Regions from separate parts of the Homo sapiens genome. Here all the other regions are linked to region 4. Evidence: fine-mapped expression QTL. A gene starts in region 4. Each other region holds a variant in brackets. All regions are shown on one strand. Distances are from middle to middle.

Region 1 (4,000 bases), 29 kb after region 4:
ACTCACGCTGGGCAGTGTCTAAAATGGAAGATAACTGGGCTGCCTGGCAGGCAACAGCGGTAGTCAGATCACCACAAGGCTTTTTTTACACATGAAGCATGTTGAGATTAGAAATAAATGAACCGAGGTGCGTGGCACACAAAATGGTCTGTACGATTCCATGTGTCAAAATCATTAAAACTTGAGGGAAACTAAAGGAACTCAAACTTGGGAGAAGGCAACCTACAGCTGGTTTGGTGATGTGCTGGTCGCCGTCCTGGCTGTGGGTGGGGTCCTCCCTCACATGGCATTCCAGACACTGTTCCCTATTTGACTTTGAACCCTTTCCTCAGTAATTCACACGGTCAGTACACGCATGGAGGCTGCAAGAGCTGCTGTTAGCGCCACAGGCACTGACAGATCGGACGGACACGTGCACACGGGGCACCTACCATCTCAGAGTTGACCAAGTGGAAGAACTGCTCGCATCTGGCAGTGATGGGCTGTTCTGCCTGGAAGCTGCTGCCGCAGAGGACAGACGAAGGCAGGCGGAGGAGGATCCTGGAAAGAAGGGGCTGTATTGGTGGCGACAGCACAGCGTACACTCTGCTCCTTCCCAAGGGCTCAGACTCTCAGAGCAGCAACCACCACCCTGAAACCCAGGGCCACTGTTGGAACCAGAGCCTTGGCCTGTGTCCCTCTGTCCCATCCAAAGCCTGCACTCTGAGCCCACCTCCCCTATACTGTGTTTGGCCCACTGCATTCAAAATGTGTTACCAAACAAACAACTTTTAACAGTTACATAATAACCAACAACTTCTGACAGTTACACGATAACCAAGTGGATGACGCACCAGTCTGTCTAGTGAAGCAATTCCCTATGACTGTAAAATTAAATGACTCCACGCTGCTTCTTATAAATGCAGCCGCCGTGGGCATTTCTGAACACTTTTCCCTACTTTCACAAGAGCTCCTTCTGCGACGTCCCTCCACGTCTGAGCAGGAAGGTTTTGTTGTTGTTGTTGAGACAGAGTCTCGCTCTGTTGCCCAGGCTGGTGTGCAATGGCGTGATCTCGGCTCACTGAAACCTCTGCCTCCCAGGTTCACACCACTCTCCTGCCTCAGTCTCCCGAGTAGCTGGGATTACAGGTGCCCGCCACCACACCTAGCTAAATTTTTTTGTATTTTTTTTGTATTTTTAGTAGACATGGCGTTTCGCCATGTTGGTCAGGCTGGTCTCAAACTCCTGACCTCAGGTGATCCACTCACCTCAGCCTCCCAAAATGCTAGGATTACAGGCATGAACCACCTCGCTTGGCTGGAAGGTTTTAATCAAAAGTACTTTCAACCCTCCAGATCCTCTTCTCCGTGGCATGTGCCACAGAAATGGACAGGCTTGGGGTGGGGACACACAGACAAGTAAGTAACGGGAAACAAACTCACTACAAAGAACCTCTAGGACCGTCATGAGATGCTGCCCTGCCCAGGTGGTGCTGCCCTGCCCAGGTGGTAGTAGGTGTTACCGTTTGTACATTAGCAGCTCCCTCTGTCTCTGAAGGCTGGCAGCCACGCTCCACCCGCTTGTCAGAGCCTGGAGCCGTCTGCGGAAAATCTCAAAGAGGAAGTGCTCCTGGGAAGGGGTGTGGCCGAGAGGCACTATGAGGTCTTGCTGCAGCTCCAGGTCAGCTACCATCTCCTGAAAAAGAGCAGTATGCTGGCACAGGAAGGCCTCGGGGCTCACTGCCCAGCCAGTCGGGGACCCAGACGTCAGGGGTCAGGGAGAGGTCTCCACAGTGGACAGGGCAAGAAGGAACAAGTGGGGCAAGCTATTTCAATTGGAAATCACTTTGAAATTGCAAATATAGAACAGTGCAGGCCGGGTGCTGTGGCTCACGTCTGTAATGCCAGCACTTTGGGAGGCCGAGGCAGGCAGATTCCTTGAGCCCAGGAGTTACAGTACTACTTATCAACTACTTATCAATTAAGAAAAAACAGCTGGGCGTGGTGGCTCATGCCTGTAATCCCAGCACTTTGGGAGGCCAAGGCAGGAGGATCACGAGGTCAGGAGATGGAGACCATCCTGGCTAACATGGTGAAACCCTGTCGCTACTAAAAAATACAAAAAAATTAGCTGGGCATGGTGGCGGGTGCCTGTAGTCCCAGCGACTCAGGCGGCTGAGGCAGGAGAATGGCGTGAACCCGGGAGGTGGAGCTTGCAGTGAGCCCAGATCGCACCACTGCACTTCAGACTGGGCAACAGAGTGAGACTCCGTCTCAAAAA[A/C]AAACAAACAAAAAAAAACAGCCAGGTATGGTGGCTCACGCCTGTAATCCCAGAACTTTGGGAGGCCAAGACAGATGGATTACCTGAGGTCAGGAGTCCAAGACCAGCCTGGCCAACAAAATTAGCCATACAAAAATTAGCTGGGTGTGGTGGCAGGCGCCTGTAATCCCAGCTAATCAGGAGGCAGAGGCAGGAGAATAGTTTGAACCCGGGAGGTAGAGGCTGCAGTGAGCCAAGATCCCGCCACTGCACTCCAGAGCAAGACTCTGTCTCAAAAACAAACAGACAAAACAAAACAAAACAACAACAAAAAAAAACAGCAGGAGGACACTCATGTGCCCTTCACCCAGATTAACCTCTGGCTAACATTTTACCCCACACATCATTTTTGCCTCACAAGTCTTTTGTTGTTGTTGTTGTTGTTAGGACAGTCTCAGTCCGGTTGCCCAGGCTGGAGTGCGGCAGTGCAGTCTTGGCTTATGGCAGCCTTGACTCTCGAGCTCAGCTGATTCTCCTAAGTCAGCTTCCTGAGTAGCTGGGACTATAGGTACACACCACCATGCTTGACTAGTGTTTTGTATTTTTAGTAGAGATGGGGTTTCACCATGTTGGCCAAACTGGTCTTGAGCCCCTGACCTCAAGTGATCTAGCCACCTCAGCCTCCCAAAGTGCTGGGATTACAGGCATAAGCCACCGTGCCTGGCCGGCTGTATTTTTTAAAGAAGAATAAAGATCAGGTGCAGTGGCTCACGCCTGTAATCCAACAATTTTGGAGACCGAGATGGGTGGTTCACTTGGGCCCAGGAGTTCGAGACAAGCCTGGGCAACATGGCAAAACTCCGTCTCTACAAAAAATCAGCTGGGTGTGGTGGCGCACACAGGTGCACGCTGTCAGGATTGCTTGAGCCCAGGAAGTCAAGGCTGCAGAGAGATATGATCGCACCACTGTACTCTAGCCTGGGTGACAGAGCAAGACCCTGTCCCAATAATAATAATAATTATGATTACAATTAAGAGGAAAAAGCAGATGGTCTCACTGAGAAGGAGCCAGGTGGGTCTAGGGAAAGCATCTGGCTAAGGAGTTGGGAGGCCCCAGAGCTGGCGGAGGGAGAGACAGGGGCCTGGCACAGAAGACGCACGGGTGGCCAGCACCAGTAAATGCCTGTTGACTGACAGTGAACCCACACAGGTACATGCTGCCTACCTGTATAGACTTCAGGTGATCCACCAGCCTCGGACTCCCAAAGTACTGGGATTACAAGCCTGAGCCAACAATAAATATCTTTTTTTTTTTTTTGAGACGGAGTCTCACTCTGTCGCCCGCCCAGGCTGGAGTGCAGTGGCACAATCTCGGCTCACTGCAAGCTCCGCCTCCTGGGTTCATGCCATTCTCCTGCCTCAGCCTCCCGAGTAGGTGGGGCTACAGGTGCCCGCCACCACGCCCGGCTAAATTTTTGTATTTTTAGTAGAGACGGGGTCTCATCGTGTTAGCCAGCATGGTCTCGATCTCCTGACTGTGTGATCCGCCTGCCTCGGCCTCCCAAAGTTCTGGGATTACAGGCGTGAGCCACCGCGCCTGGCAATAAATATCTTAATAGCACGCGGCTTAAATGAAGTGAATGCACTGAGTTGTGGCACCCTCAAACTCACCTGCAATCTGGAAATAATATCCTCATTTCCTGTGCGGCCACCAAAGACCAAATCAGAATTTTCTGAGTGGTCATAACTCCTTGAGCTGAA
Region 2 (4,214 bases), 240 kb after region 4:
TGGATGAGAAATTAAACTAGTGAATTACATGGTGTGTCTAGTTTGTACAATGAAGAAAAAGGGAAAGGACCTAGCACGTGTTAGGGTGGAGTGAATGTGACTTTAGGGCAGAATGTAAAGGCATCACGTGACTTTGTTTTTTGTTTTTGTTTGTTTTTGGTTTGGTTTTGTTTTTGAGACGGAGTCTCACTCAATCGCCCAGGCTGGAGTGCAGTGGTGCAATCTCAGCTCACTGCAAGCTCCACCTCCCGGGTTCACACCGTTCTCCTGCCTCAGCCTCCTGAGTAGCTGGGACTACAGGTGCCCGCCACCACGCCCGGCTAATTTTTTGTATTTTTTTTAGTAGAGACGGGGTTTCACCGTGTTAGCCAGGATGGTCTCTATCTCCTGATCTTGTGTTCCGTCCACCTCGGCCTCCCAAAGTGCTGGGATTACAGGCGTGAGCCACCACGCCCAGCCGGCGTCACGTGACTTTTAAGCAAAAACTTGAAGGTCAGGGAGCAAGCCAAGACAATATGTCTGGAGGAATGTTCTGGTGGGGGCAGCCCTGTGGTTGATGTGTCCAGTGCCTTAAGGAGGAGCAGAGAGCCAGGTGTGGCTGCAGCTTTGTGTCTGGAGGACTGTTCCGGTGGGGACAGTGCTGTGGTTGATATAAGGAGGAGCAGAGAGCCAGGTGTGGCTGCAGCTCTGTGTCTGGAGGAATGTTCCGGTGGGGGCAGCCCTGTGGTTGATATAAGGAGGAGCAGAGAGCCAGGTGGGGCTGCAGTTCTGTTTCTGGGGGAGGTGGGCTCAGAGGTGGCTGGGGCTTTTCTTTAAGTGCAGTGGGGGCCACAAGTGGGTGCTGGACATACTTGAGCTTTAATAGGTTACTGTGGCTGCTGACTGAGCTTGGACTGAGAGGGAGGTGACTGAGAAGAGGGGGATGACTCTGATTGGGCTGGGGTAGGTGGTGGGAGTGAGGAGTCGCTAAGGGCAGTCCAGCTGAAGGTTTGGAAACGGAATGTAACAGATTAGAAAATAGTCTGACTGAGTGCGGTGGCTCACGCCTGTAATCCTAGGGTTTTCCAGTGCAAAGATGGGAGGATCGCTTGGGCCCTGGAGTCTGAGGCTGCAGTGAGCTCTGATTGCACGACTACACTCCAGCCTGGGCAAAAGAGCAAGACCCTGTCTCTTAAAAAGTACAAAAACAACAACAACAAAAACAGAGAGAGAGAAACCCTTCAGGATAACTCATGATATTGAAAGGGTGGAGCTGCTGAAACCGAGATGGGGAAGCTGAGGGGCTTGGGGTCGGGGGTGGGAGTTTCGTTTGTTACATTTGGACAGGTTGGGTCTGGTGGTGGGAGTGGCAGGTTGGCCCCAAACATGTGAGTCAAGTTGGAGGACAAGGTCTGGGCCACCTTTGGGGCAAGGCTCAGGGGCCAGGGAGAAAAGGATCTTTGAGGTTCTAAGGCCTCCCTTGGTGCCAGGAGGTCTTAGATTGATCTGGGCCTCAGAGTGGAACCCACGGGGAGGGGGCAAGCCAGCTGAGGGTGGCCTGGGCTGCAGGCGCACCCTTCCCGCTTTTGAGAAGTGTGTGTCCCTCCACCCTAGGGTGTTATTACCGCTGTCACAGTAAGTGCTTGAACCTCATCTCCAAGCCCTGTGTGAGCTCCAAAGTCAGCCACCAAGCTGAATACGAACTGAACATCTGCCCTGAGACAGGGCTGGACAGCCAGGATTACCGCTGTGCCGAGTGCCGGGCGCCCATCTCTCTGCGTGAGTGGTGGCAGGGAGAGAAGAGGGTGAGGGAGCTGTTCCTGGCGGGGAGCCGGGTGCACAGGTGTGTAAGGGCACGTAAGTCAGACAGTTGAGTGAGGCCCTGGGGCAGTGCCTGCTTGATATCTTTAGGAAGTGACAAGGGTCTGTTGCTGCCATTGTTTCATTTCTCACTGAAGCAGACTGAGGTTCCAGCCGTTCCGTGACTCACCCAGGTCACTGAGGAGCACCTGGAGGGCTGGGACCTGGCCTCCGCCTCCCCGTGTGAAAGCCTCATAGATGAGGACTAGGGAGAAGTCACACAGCACAGAAAGCCTCATAGACGGGGTCTAGG[G/A]AGAGTACACGGTTGTCGCCCAGTTGTGCACATGTGCGCGTCAGCTCTTCTTTCTAGAGAGTTGCTGGTGTTAATTCATGAAGTCCCTGCCTCGGTCCTACAGTGAGGCCCTGTTTATATCCCATTTTACTGATAAGAGAACAGGTCAGTGAGACGCTGGGACCACCTGAGGTCTTCCGGCTGAGGATAGGACATGTTCCCATGTCTCCCCGAGGGCTGTGGTCCATGGGAGGACAGACCATGAGGCTGGAAAGCTGTGTGGGGTTTTTGTGAGGCAGGGACACTCAGGGCCCCTCTGACCCTGCAGGGGGTGTGCCCAGTGAGGCCAGGCAGTGCGACTACACCGGCCAGTACTACTGCAGCCACTGCCACTGGAACGACCTGGCTGTGATCCCTGCACGCGTTGTACACAACTGGGACTTTGAGCCTCGAAAGGTGGGGGTTGGAAGGTGGGGGCATCCCCCTGGGGAGGGAGAGCAGGAAGGGGGTTGGGGTGTGGAGCCGGTGTACCCCTGGTTGGGTGTTGCCCGCTGCACGGGCCCTGGGTGGGTGTGAGAGGTGTCACCCGGCCGTGCCTGGCAGGTTTCTCGCTGCAGCATGCGCTACCTGGCGCTGATGGTGTCTCGGCCCGTACTCAGGCTCCGGGAGATCAACCCTCTGCTGTTCAGCTACGTGGAGGAGCTGGTGGAGATTCGCGTGAGGCTGGGGCCATGGAAGTGGGGGGCGGGGGCGCTGTGTCAGGTGGGCCCTAGGGCCGGGCCAGTACCCTCTTCTCCTCTGGGCCACGGGAGGTTCTGAGCAGAGGAGGGAGGCCACCTGCTTAGGGTGAGCCAGGCGCCGCGGCTGCCCTTTTGGTTGAAGGTGCTGGAGCGGTGTCCCGTAGTGATCTGATGCCAGGTGTGAACACAATATTAAATTTTGTAATAGCCACGTTAAAAAAGTAAAAAGAGCTGGGCACGGTGCTCACACCTGTAATCCCAGCACTTGGGAGGCTGAGGTGGGTGGATCACTTGAGGTCGGGAGTTTGAGACCAGCCTGACCAACATGGTGAAACCCCATCTCTACTAAAAATACAAAATTGGCCGGGCATGGTGGTGTGTGCCTGTATCCCAGCTACTCGGGAGGCTGAGGCAGGAGAATCACTTGAACCCGGGAGGCTGAGGTTGCTGTGAGCCGAGATCGCGTCACTGCACTCCAGCCTGGGCAACAAGAGCGAAACTCTGTCTCAAAAAAAAGTAAAAAGAAACAAGTGAAGTTAATGTTAATAGTATATTTTATTTAGCCCAATATATCCAAAATGTTATTTCAACATGAAATCAATGTACATTTTTGAGATATTTGCTTTCTTTTTCTTTTTTGTGCCACGTCTTTGGCTCCAGCATGTAGCCTCTGCTAAGTCTCACTGCACAGCGGCCACTTTGAGGTGCTCTGTGGCTGTGCAGGGCTGGTGGCCACTCTCTTAGCCAGCGGTGAGGGAGGAGGTAGGGCGGGAGCCGAGGGCAGACGGGAGCTGCAGTCCTGGCAGGACATGATGGCGTCTCACGCCAGGTAGTGAAAGGAGGCAGGTCCCATTTTACCCGGGAGGAGACTGTGGCAGCACGTTGAGTTGCCAAGGCCAGGGCTGGGGAGGCAGCTGGGATTTCTCCGGAAGTTTGGCTTGGTCCTGAGGCTGCTGGTTCCTAGACAGTTGTGTGCCTGTGGGGCCGGGTGAGGGCAGAGGGAAGGGAGGGTTTTCTGGACCACGGTAAGTGAGCCTCACGGTCCTGCCCAGCCTGGGAGCTGTGATTTTGGGTTTTGGTGAAGCACTCAGATCTCGGCCCTTCGTGGGGAACCAACCCCTCCTGGCCCTGCCGTGGCCCCGGGTGTGCGGCCCACACAGGGGCCGCCCTGTGTCCTGGCTGAGGAGGCCTGCCTGCTCCCGCCTTGTTTGCAGAAGCTGCGCCAGGACATCCTGCTCATGAAGCCGTACTTCATCACCTGCAGGGAGGCCATGGAGGCTCGTCTGCTGCTGCAGGTCAGACTGCCAGCAGGACTGGCCCCCGATGGGAAGCGCAGCCAGGGTGGTGAGGCACCTCAGGCTCAGGTTTTTTCCGGACAGCTTGTGCGTGGAGTGCCTTTAGCA
Region 3 (4,214 bases), 160 kb after region 4:
CAGCCTGGCCAACATGGTGAAACCCCATCTCTACTAAGAATACAAAAATTGGGCCAGGCGTGGTGGCACATGCCTGTATTCCCAGCACTTTGGGAGGCCGACGTGGGCGGATCATGAGGTCAGGAGATCCAGACCATCCTGGCTAACACGGTGAAACCCCGCCTCTACTAAAGAAGTACAAAAAAATTAGCCGGGTGTGGCGGCGGGAGCCTATAGTCCCAGCTACTCAGGAGGCTGAGGCAGGAGAATGGCGTGAACCCAGGAGGCGGAGCTTGCAGTGAGCTGAGATCGTGCCACTGCACTCCAGCCTGGGCAACAGAGCGAGACTCCATCTAAAAAAAAAAAAAAAAAAAAAAAAATTGGCCAGGCATGGTGGTGGGTGCCTGTAATCCCAGCTACTTGGGAGGCTGAGGCAGGAGAATTGCTTGAACCCAGGAGGTGGAGGTTGCAATGAACTGAGATTGTGCCACCAGGCTCCAGCCCGGGCAATACAGCGAGACTCTGTCTCAAAAAAATAAATAAATAAATAAATAAATAAATCGTAATAATAATTATGGATTTGTCTATTTCTACTTTCAACCCTGTCAGTTTTTGCTGTGTGTGGGTGTGTGTGTGTTTTGGTTTTTTGGAGACAGAGTCTCGCTCTATTGCCCAGGCTGGAGTTCAATGTCACAATTATAACTCACTGTAATCTTGAACTCCTGGGCTCAAACCATCCTCCCACCTCAGCCTCCCAAGTAGGTGGAACTATAAGTGGGTGTCACCACACCTGGCTAATTTTTTCAATTTTTTTTGAAAGCCAGTGTGCTGGGATTATAGATGTGAGCTACCATGCCTGGCCTAGAATCTTTTCTGAACTGATTGGTAATGAAAATAGCAACCTATCAAAATTTGTGGGATGCAACTGAAACGATGATTAGAACTTTATCATCGTAAATTTTAAATTAGAAAAGTGTTTAAAAATCTAGAAATTTACCTGAAACTTCTACCTTAAACTAGAAAAAGAGCAAATTAAACTCAAAATGTGTCGAAGGAAGAAACTAATCAAAGAGGGGAATGCACAGAATAGAGTATGGACACGATGGAGAGAATCGGTGAGACCGAAACTTGGTTCTCTCAAAAGACGAGTTGGCAAAAACTCTAGATTGACTGATGGAGGGAAAAAGGGAAGGTCCAGGTACGTTACCATTTTCAGGGATGGGAGAGGAGTGTTCACAGGTACAGATGGTGCAGATAGTAACGGGCGATAAGGAACTTCTTGCTAATAAATTTTCCAGATTAGACAAATGGGCAAGTTCCTTTAAAGATAAAACTTATCTAAATTGACATGTGAAGAAATAAAAAAATCTGAGCCCTTTTATCTATTAAAGATACTGAATTTTTTAAAGTATAAAACATTCCAGGCTAGGGTTGGTGGCTGACACCTGTAATCCCATCACTTTGGGAGGTCAAGGCAGATCCATCACTTGAGCTCAGGTGTGTGAGACCAGCCTGGGCAATGTGGCAAAACCCCATCTCTACAAACAATACAAAAAAACTGTCCAAGTATAGTGGCACTCACCTGTGGTCACAGCTACTCGGGAGGCTGAGACGGGAGGATGGCTTGAACCCAGGAGGTCGAGGCTGCAGTGAGGTGAGATGACGCCACCGTACTCCAGCCTGGGTGACAAAGTGAGACCCTGTCTCAAAAAAAAAAAAAAGACAACCTCAGGCTGGGTGCGGTGGCTCATGCCGGTAATCCCAGCACTGTGGGAGGCCAAGGCGGGTGGACCACCTGAGGTCAGGAGTTCGAGACCAGCCTGGCCGACATGGTGAAACTCCGTCTCTATTAAAAATCACC[A/AT]TTTTTTTTTTTTTTTTTTTTTTTTAGGAAAAATGGACATTTTCCTCTCCCCCTAAAAAAAGATAAAACTCCTTCCTGGTTATTAACTGAAATGCTGATCGAGCTTTATCCTAAAGAAGATCAGTCGTGGACAAGAACCTTGTGAAATGTTCCCCATTTGAGACCCTAAAACTAATGAAAATCACAGCTTTTGGGTAGGTAATAAGGTGTTTTGTTTTGTTTTTTGAGACGGAGTCTTGCGCTGTCGCCCAGGCTGGAGTGCAGTGGCACCATCTCAGCTCACTGCAAGCTCTGCCTCCTGGATTCACTCCATTGTCCAGCCTCAGCCTCCTGAGTAGCTGGGACTACAGGCGCCCACCACCACGCCCGGCAAGTTTTTTTGTATTTTTAGTAGAGACGGGGTTTCACCGTGTTAGCGAGGATGGTCTTGATCTCCTGACCTCGCCATCTGCCCACCTCTGCCTCCCAAAGTGCTGGGATTACAGGCGTGAGCCACCGCGCCCAGCCAGTAATAAGGTTTGTCTGACGGTGATTGACAGCATTTTAGAGCTGATGCATGGCAGTAGAGATTGCAGCAAATCATGTGTCATCACCAAAACTTCACTGAAGAAGCAAAACTAGGCCTGTCACCCGTGCTGTCTGTGTACACAGATGGGCTTCAGAGCCTGTCACACGTGTTGTCCGTGTACACAGATGGGCTTCGGGGCCTGTCATACGTGCTGTTCGTGTACACAGACGGGCTCCTGGGCCTATCACCCGTGCTGTCCGTGTACACAGATGGGCTTCGGGGCCTGTCACACGTGTTGTCCGTGTGCACAGATGGGCTTCGGGGCCTGTCACACGTGTTGTCCGTGTACACAGACGGGCTTCAGAGCCTGTCACACGTGCTGTTCGTGTACACAGACGGGCTCCTGGGCCTGTCACACGTGCTGTCCGTGTACACAGATGGGCTTCGGAGCCTGTCACACGTGTTGTCCGTGTACACAGATGGGCTTCGGGGCCTGTCACACGTGTTGTCCGTGTACACAGATGGGCTTCGGGGCCTGTCACACGTGTTGTCCGTGTGCACAGATGGGCTTCGGGGCCTGTCACACGTGTTGTCCGTGTGCACAGATGGGCTTCGGGGCCTGTCACACGTGTTGTCCGTGTGCACAGATGGGCTTCGGGGCCTGTCACACGTGTTGTCCGTGTGCACAGATGGGCTTCGGGGCCTGTCACACGTGTTGTCCGTGTGCACAGATGGGCTTCGGGGCCTGTCACACGTGTTGTCCGTGTGCACAGATGGGCTTCGGGGCCTGTCACACGTGTTGTCCGTGTGCACAGATGGGCTTCGGGGCCTGTCACACGTGTTGTCCGTGTGCACAGATGGGCTTCGGGGCCTGTCACACGTGTTGTCCGTGTGCACAGATGGGCTTCGGGGCCTGTCACACGTGTTGTCCGTGTGCACAGATGGGCTTCGGAGCCTGTCACACGTGTTGTCCGTGTACACAGACAGGCTCCTGGGCCTATCATGTGTGCTGTCTTTGTAAACAGTCAGGATCCCAGGACTATCACGCGTGCTGTCCATGTACACAGGCAGGCTCCTGAGCCCATCACACGTGCTGTCCGTGTACACAGATGGGCTTCAGAGCCTGTCACACGTGTTGTCCATGTACACAGACAGGCTCCCGGGCCTATCATGTGTGCTGTCTGTGTACACAGGCAGGCTCCTGAGCCCATCACGCGTGCTGTCCGTGTACACAGGCTCCTTTCCATTGAAGTTCAGCTTGGCATAGAGCTTTTTATGAATTCGATTTGTCAAACACCTCAAAATAAGAATTTTTTTTCTTAGGAAGTCAGCATGAGTTAATAAAAGTAAATTGGGTGTTGGCCGGGCGCGGTGGCTCACGCCTGTAATCCCAGCACTTTGGGAGTCTGAGGCGGGCAGATCACCTGAGGTCAGGAGTTCGAGACCAGCCTGGCCAACATGATGAAACCCCATCTGTACTAAAAATACAAAAATTAGCCTGGCATGGCGGCACATGCCTGTAGTCCCAGTTACTCGGGAGGCTGAGGCAGGAGAATCACTTGAATCCGGGAGGCGGAGGTTGCAGTGAGCCAAGATCATGCGATTGCTCTCCAGCCTGGGCAACAGAGCAAGACTCCATCTCAAAAAAAGAAAAAAAAAAAAGTAAATTGGGTGTTGTGGCGTGTGCCTGTAGTCCCAGCTCCTGGGGAGGCTGAGGCAGGAGGATCCCTTGACCACAGGAATTTGAGGCCAGCCTGGGCAACACAGTGAGACCCTATCTCTAAAAACAGACAAGTAAACCAGCACCCAGCTTCACTAAGAGACATCATCATTAGTTGAATGTTGGAGATGGTGTAGATCCAATTT
Region 4 (4,214 bases):
GCCCACAATTTGTCCAGCATGGAGGAAGCAGCAGGGCTCAGCCATGCCTTTTTCTTTTTCTTTTCTTTTTTTTTTTTTTGAGACGGAGTTTCGCTCTTGTTCCAGGCTGGAGTACAATGGGGTGATCTCGGCTCACTGCAACCTCTGCTCCCGGGTTCAAGCAATTCTCCTGCCTCAGCCTCCCGAGTAGCTGGGACTACAGACACCCGCCACCAGGCCCAGCTGATTTTTTAGATTTTTAGTAGAGACGGGGTTTCACCATGTTAGCCAGGATGGTTTCGATCTCCTGACCTCAGGTGATAGCCCGCCTCTGCCTCCCACAGTGCTGGGATTACAGGCGTGAGCCACCGCGCCCGGCTGGCTGAGCCGTACCTTTAGTGGTTTCCACTTCTTCTAGTAACACCTGGGAGATATAGTGGATGCTCCTCAGGTATTCCGTGTATGCCTCCTGTGTCCAGGAAAGAGAAAGAGTGGGGTCAGGCCAGTGGAGGGAAGTGACTCCATTATTCCGGCCAGGTGCCCTTGTGGGATAAGCAAGGAACACCACCACCTGCTTATCTCTGAGATACACCCAGAGACATTGAGCCTGCGGTGGTTAGCTGCAGCCGGAACACGGTTTTCTGCGCAGGGCACAGGCAGCATCGCTGCTCTCCAGACTTGGAAAAGACATCAGGACCTGAGAGAGAGAGAGAGCCAGGGACGAGCTGGACCTCATTTTCTCCTCTGACTGCCTTTCTCTCCAGCACAGGAACTGATATTCTCATTCAGTGGGCCTGGGGAAGTGACCTCAGCAGTTTGCTGTCATTTTTCATTCTATGCAATGTTTCCTTCTTGTGCAACTCAAGGGTGATTCATTCAGTGGCTTAAAAAAATACTTTTCTGAGAGGATAAAGGGAGTGATACTGGAAGTTTTCAAATCACTTCCCGGTTTAAGTTCCGAGAAATCCCTTTCCCAGAACCTGCGAGTTACGTATTTCCAGTGCACACAGGAGCCTAGAACTGTTACCTTTCAAGGCTGTGTGACCCCTCTGACAAGGCACAGGTCATTGGAACCACAGAATGGTGGTTTGTTTTGTTTTGTTGAGACAGAGTCTCACTCTGTCGCCCAGGCTGGAGTGCAGTGGCAGGATCTCGAGTCACTGCAACCTCCGCCTCCTGGGTTCAAGTGATTCTCATCCCTCAGCCTCCCAAGGAGCTAGGATTACAGGTGTGCACCGCCACACCCAGCTAATTTTTGTATTTTTAGTAGAGACGGGGTTTCACCACGTTGGCCAGGCTGGTCTCAAACTCCTCACCTCAGGTGATCCACCGCCTGGGCCTCCCAAAGTGTCAGGATTACAGGCGTGAACCACAGCGCCCAGCAATATGCTATGTTTTTTTGTTTTATCCCTAGCTGTTAAGTTTCCTATCTTTAAGTCTATGCCTCAGAGAGAAAGACGAAATATAATCCAGGCAGGATTTCTGACTTGCGGGGGCACCTGCTGCCCTAAAAACCAACTTGGGGAAAGCAGCAGATTCAGGAACGAGGCTTCTCCTAGGCACAGGCAGGCTCCTTCCCTCCTTGGGCAGCCGGGTGTGGCTGGGCCAGCTTCTCTACCTGGTCGCCAACCTTAGATTCGGCCCCATCTCAGGAACGGGCCACACCCCTCCGGCCTGCTTTTCCTTCCTAAGACGACTGCAAACAGCATCACAAATGAGCAGGTATGTGGCCTTCTCTGCATGCCGTCCCCTGTGGCAACCGGATTAAATCTACCATCTCTGCCCAGAAAAATGCACGAACGCACGGACCTGCCCGTCACTCGGATTTTGGAAGGTGGCCTGGCGGACCCTCCTGCTACATCTCCTCTACAGGTGGAGCCCAGGCTGTGATGCACCGGCTCAGCGAGCGGAGTGGAAAGCCAAGGTCCGCAGGATCTGAGCTGTCCAAGGTCACTGCACGCCCGGCTGCGCCCCGCCCCCGTCCTCGCCCGGGAACCGCGGCCCGGGATCCCGGCTGGCGCCCGCTCCCAAGTCTCCAGCCCGAGCCGGCCCCGTCCTCGCCCTCCCCGGGCGGGGGTCCCTCCAGGGGCCACCCTCAGCGGCCAAGCCCCGCCCCCGCCCCGCCTCACCCGGGGCCGGTTGCCGGTGTCCAGCTCGATGGCCCCGTTGGCAAGCTTCATGGCGCTCTGCAGCGGCTTCACCGTGCCGTCCCCGGCCGCAGCGGCCATGGCGCCGAGCGGGGGAGGCGGCGGCGGTAGCCGAGGGGCTGGACGGGCGACCGGAGGCCCGGAACGCAGCCGGCGCTGGTGCTGGAGCCGCCCGAGCAGCGGACCGCAGGAAGGGACGCGGCCGCACTTCCGGCGACGGGCCCCCTCCGCGCGTACTGCGGGCCCCACGGGTGTTAGTGGCGGGGGCGGCAGAGTCCGGGTGGGTTGTCGCGACGGAGCCGGGCCTCTTCGCCGTCTTGAGACGGGGCTGGCGAGAAGGGCCCCTCACGGAGTTGCCATGGGCGTCTAACCGCGGCAGCCAGGCCCCTCTCTACGTGAGACCCCGGCCCCCCTCCCCTTTCTGCAGCCCGCCCGCCACCTGCGCGCCGCGTGGCCTCCGCCGGCGCCTGCCCGCCCCGCGCCTCCGTCTCCCACGGTAAGAGGCGGTGAGGGCCGCGTCGCCTCTCCCTGGAGGACTCGTCGTGAGGTGTCGGCGAGCCCCTCCGCCCACCGCCCCGCCCCAGGCCAGCGCTCCATTGGCGACAGAGGCGGGCACGGCCGCCCTCGGGCCCGAGAGGGGAGCGGTACGAGCGGGGGCGCTGGCACCGCGGGTGGAACCTCGGCCGGCGGGGTCCCGCCCCTGGCCCCTGGCCCGCCCCGCCCGCCTCGCTTTGCTTCTCGCTCCGCCCCTCCCCCGCCCCGCCTCGCTTCCAGCGCGCCGAGCGGAGCCTAACGCCGGGTCCTCTAGGAACCTCGGGCCGGGCAGCACCCGCGGGATTCTGCTGGCGTCCTCCGCTGCCATGAAGCGGGACCGGCTGGGCCGCTTCCTGTCTCCTGGGTCGTCCCGACAGTGCGGGGCCTCGGACGGCGGCGGCGGCGTCAGCCGGACTCGGGGCCGCCCTTCCCTTAGCGGTGGGCCGAGGGTGGACGGGGCGACGGCGCGGCGCGCCTGGGGCCCGGTGGGGTCCTGCGGGGACGCGGGCGAGGACGGCGCGGACGAGGCAGGTGGGTCCGCGGCCCGGGCGTGGCGGGTTGGGGTCGCGGCAGGGGTTGCTCGTGGGAGGAGCCGCACTGACGCCCGGAAGCCGGCGCGGCCTCTCCTCCACCCGGCCAAGGGCGTAGCGGACTCGGGGCTGCGTCGGGATAGGCGCTGGGCGGCCGGCTCGGTTTTCCTCGCGCTCCGTGACGCCGGCGTCGCCGGCCCGGCCTCCCCGGCCGCGGGCTCGGCCAGAAGGGACCCGGCGTGAGGAGCGCTGTCACCGCGGGCAGGTCGCCCTGGGGTGCCCGCGCGTGGGAATCGCCCTCCCCTGCTTCGTGCCCTCGCGGAGCCGGAAAGGAGGCGGCACCTGCAATTGGCAGACAGGAAACCGCGGCGTTTCCTGGAGGGCGCAGCGCCTGCCCCGGGTCTCGCGGTCGCTGGGAGGAGGGTGCAGTTCCAGGTTTCACTCTTGAAGTTGCTTCGCTGGAGAGGCCTTAGAGGCCTTTGAAATTTGAAAGATTTCTTGGACCAGCGGCCACATCCCCCACAGGGCGGCTTGTCCCGCCGAGAGCCGCGCGCCCGAGCCGCTTGCTGTGTCCGGGAGCCGCGCGAAGGGCGCTGCAGGCGCTGCCCTCGGACCTGGAGTCCGGGACGCCCTGTGCTCAGGAGCCTCCTTTGCCAGCTGCTAACACTTCCTGCCGCTCTGTGCAGGAGCAGGCCGGGCTCTCGCCATGGGTCACTGTCGCCTCTGCCACGGGAAGTTTTCCTCGAGAAGCCTGCGCAGCATCTCCGAGAGGGCGCCTGGAGCGAGCATGGAGAGGCCATCCGCAGAGGAGCGCGTGCTCGTACGGGACTTCCAGCGCCTGCTTGGTGTGGCTGTCCGCCAGGACCCCACCTTGTCTCCGTTTGTCTGCAAGAGCTGCCACGCCCAGTTCTACCAGTGCCACAGCCTTCTCAAGTCCTTCCTGCAGAGGGTCAACGCCTCCCCGGCTGGTCGCCGGAAGCCTTGTGCAAAGTACGCCCTAGTCTGTTCAGAGCACGTTCAGGCT

Which allele goes with the higher level. Alleles are on the strand shown, and positions count from the first base shown. SD is a standard deviation of normalised expression in the study named. Not every link is listed here.
For the expression in monocytes of the gene that starts at base 2,244 in region 4, A is the low allele of the variant in region 3 and AT is the other (large effect, 1.0 SD a copy in Schmiedel 2018).

The links.
Region 1: its variant is fine-mapped to the expression of VPS9D1 in whole blood (TOPMed, PIP above 0.99).
Region 2: its variant is fine-mapped to the expression of VPS9D1 in naive CD8 T cells (Schmiedel 2018, PIP 0.95).
Region 3: its variant is fine-mapped to the expression of VPS9D1 in monocytes (Schmiedel 2018, PIP 0.95).

Annotation. Positions count from the first base shown.
Region 1 is chr16:89,748,228-89,752,227 of GRCh38, forward strand. FANCA (FA complementation group A) reads right to left here. Exons shown (of 43, transcript NM_000135.4): 31 at 3,911-3,995; 32 at 1,503-1,675; 33 at 432-540. Among named protein-coding and RNA genes, the nearest start is that of ZNF276, 29 kb to the left of the region's middle. The variant A/C (reference allele first, on the strand shown) is at 2,261.
Region 2 is chr16:89,959,338-89,963,551 of GRCh38, forward strand. DEF8 (differentially expressed in FDCP 8 homolog) reads left to right here. Exons shown (of 13, transcript NM_001242818.2): 7 at 1,594-1,758; 8 at 2,400-2,527; 9 at 2,675-2,788; 10 at 4,026-4,106. Among named protein-coding and RNA genes, the nearest start is that of SNORA119, 8.1 kb to the left of the region's middle. The variant G/A (reference allele first, on the strand shown) is at 2,093.
Region 3 is chr16:89,876,594-89,880,807 of GRCh38, forward strand. The region is part of intron 1 of TCF25 (TCF25 ribosome quality control complex subunit); the gene reads left to right. Among named protein-coding and RNA genes, the nearest start is that of TCF25, 5.1 kb to the left of the region's middle. RefSeq lists an enhancer at 2,912-3,581. The variant A/AT (reference allele first, on the strand shown) is at 1,841.
Region 4 is chr16:89,718,655-89,722,868 of GRCh38, forward strand. It overlaps VPS9D1 (VPS9 domain containing 1), which reads right to left and starts at 2,244. Exons shown (of 15, transcript NM_004913.3): 1 at 2,109-2,244; 2 at 373-448. The coding sequence starts at 2,207. ZNF276 (zinc finger protein 276) reads left to right here and starts at 2,883. Exons shown (of 11, transcript NM_001113525.2): 1 at 2,883-3,191; 2 at 3,877-4,180. The coding sequence starts at 2,987. RefSeq lists an enhancer at 456-625, a cis regulatory region at 541 and silencers at 1,851-2,970, 3,051-3,510.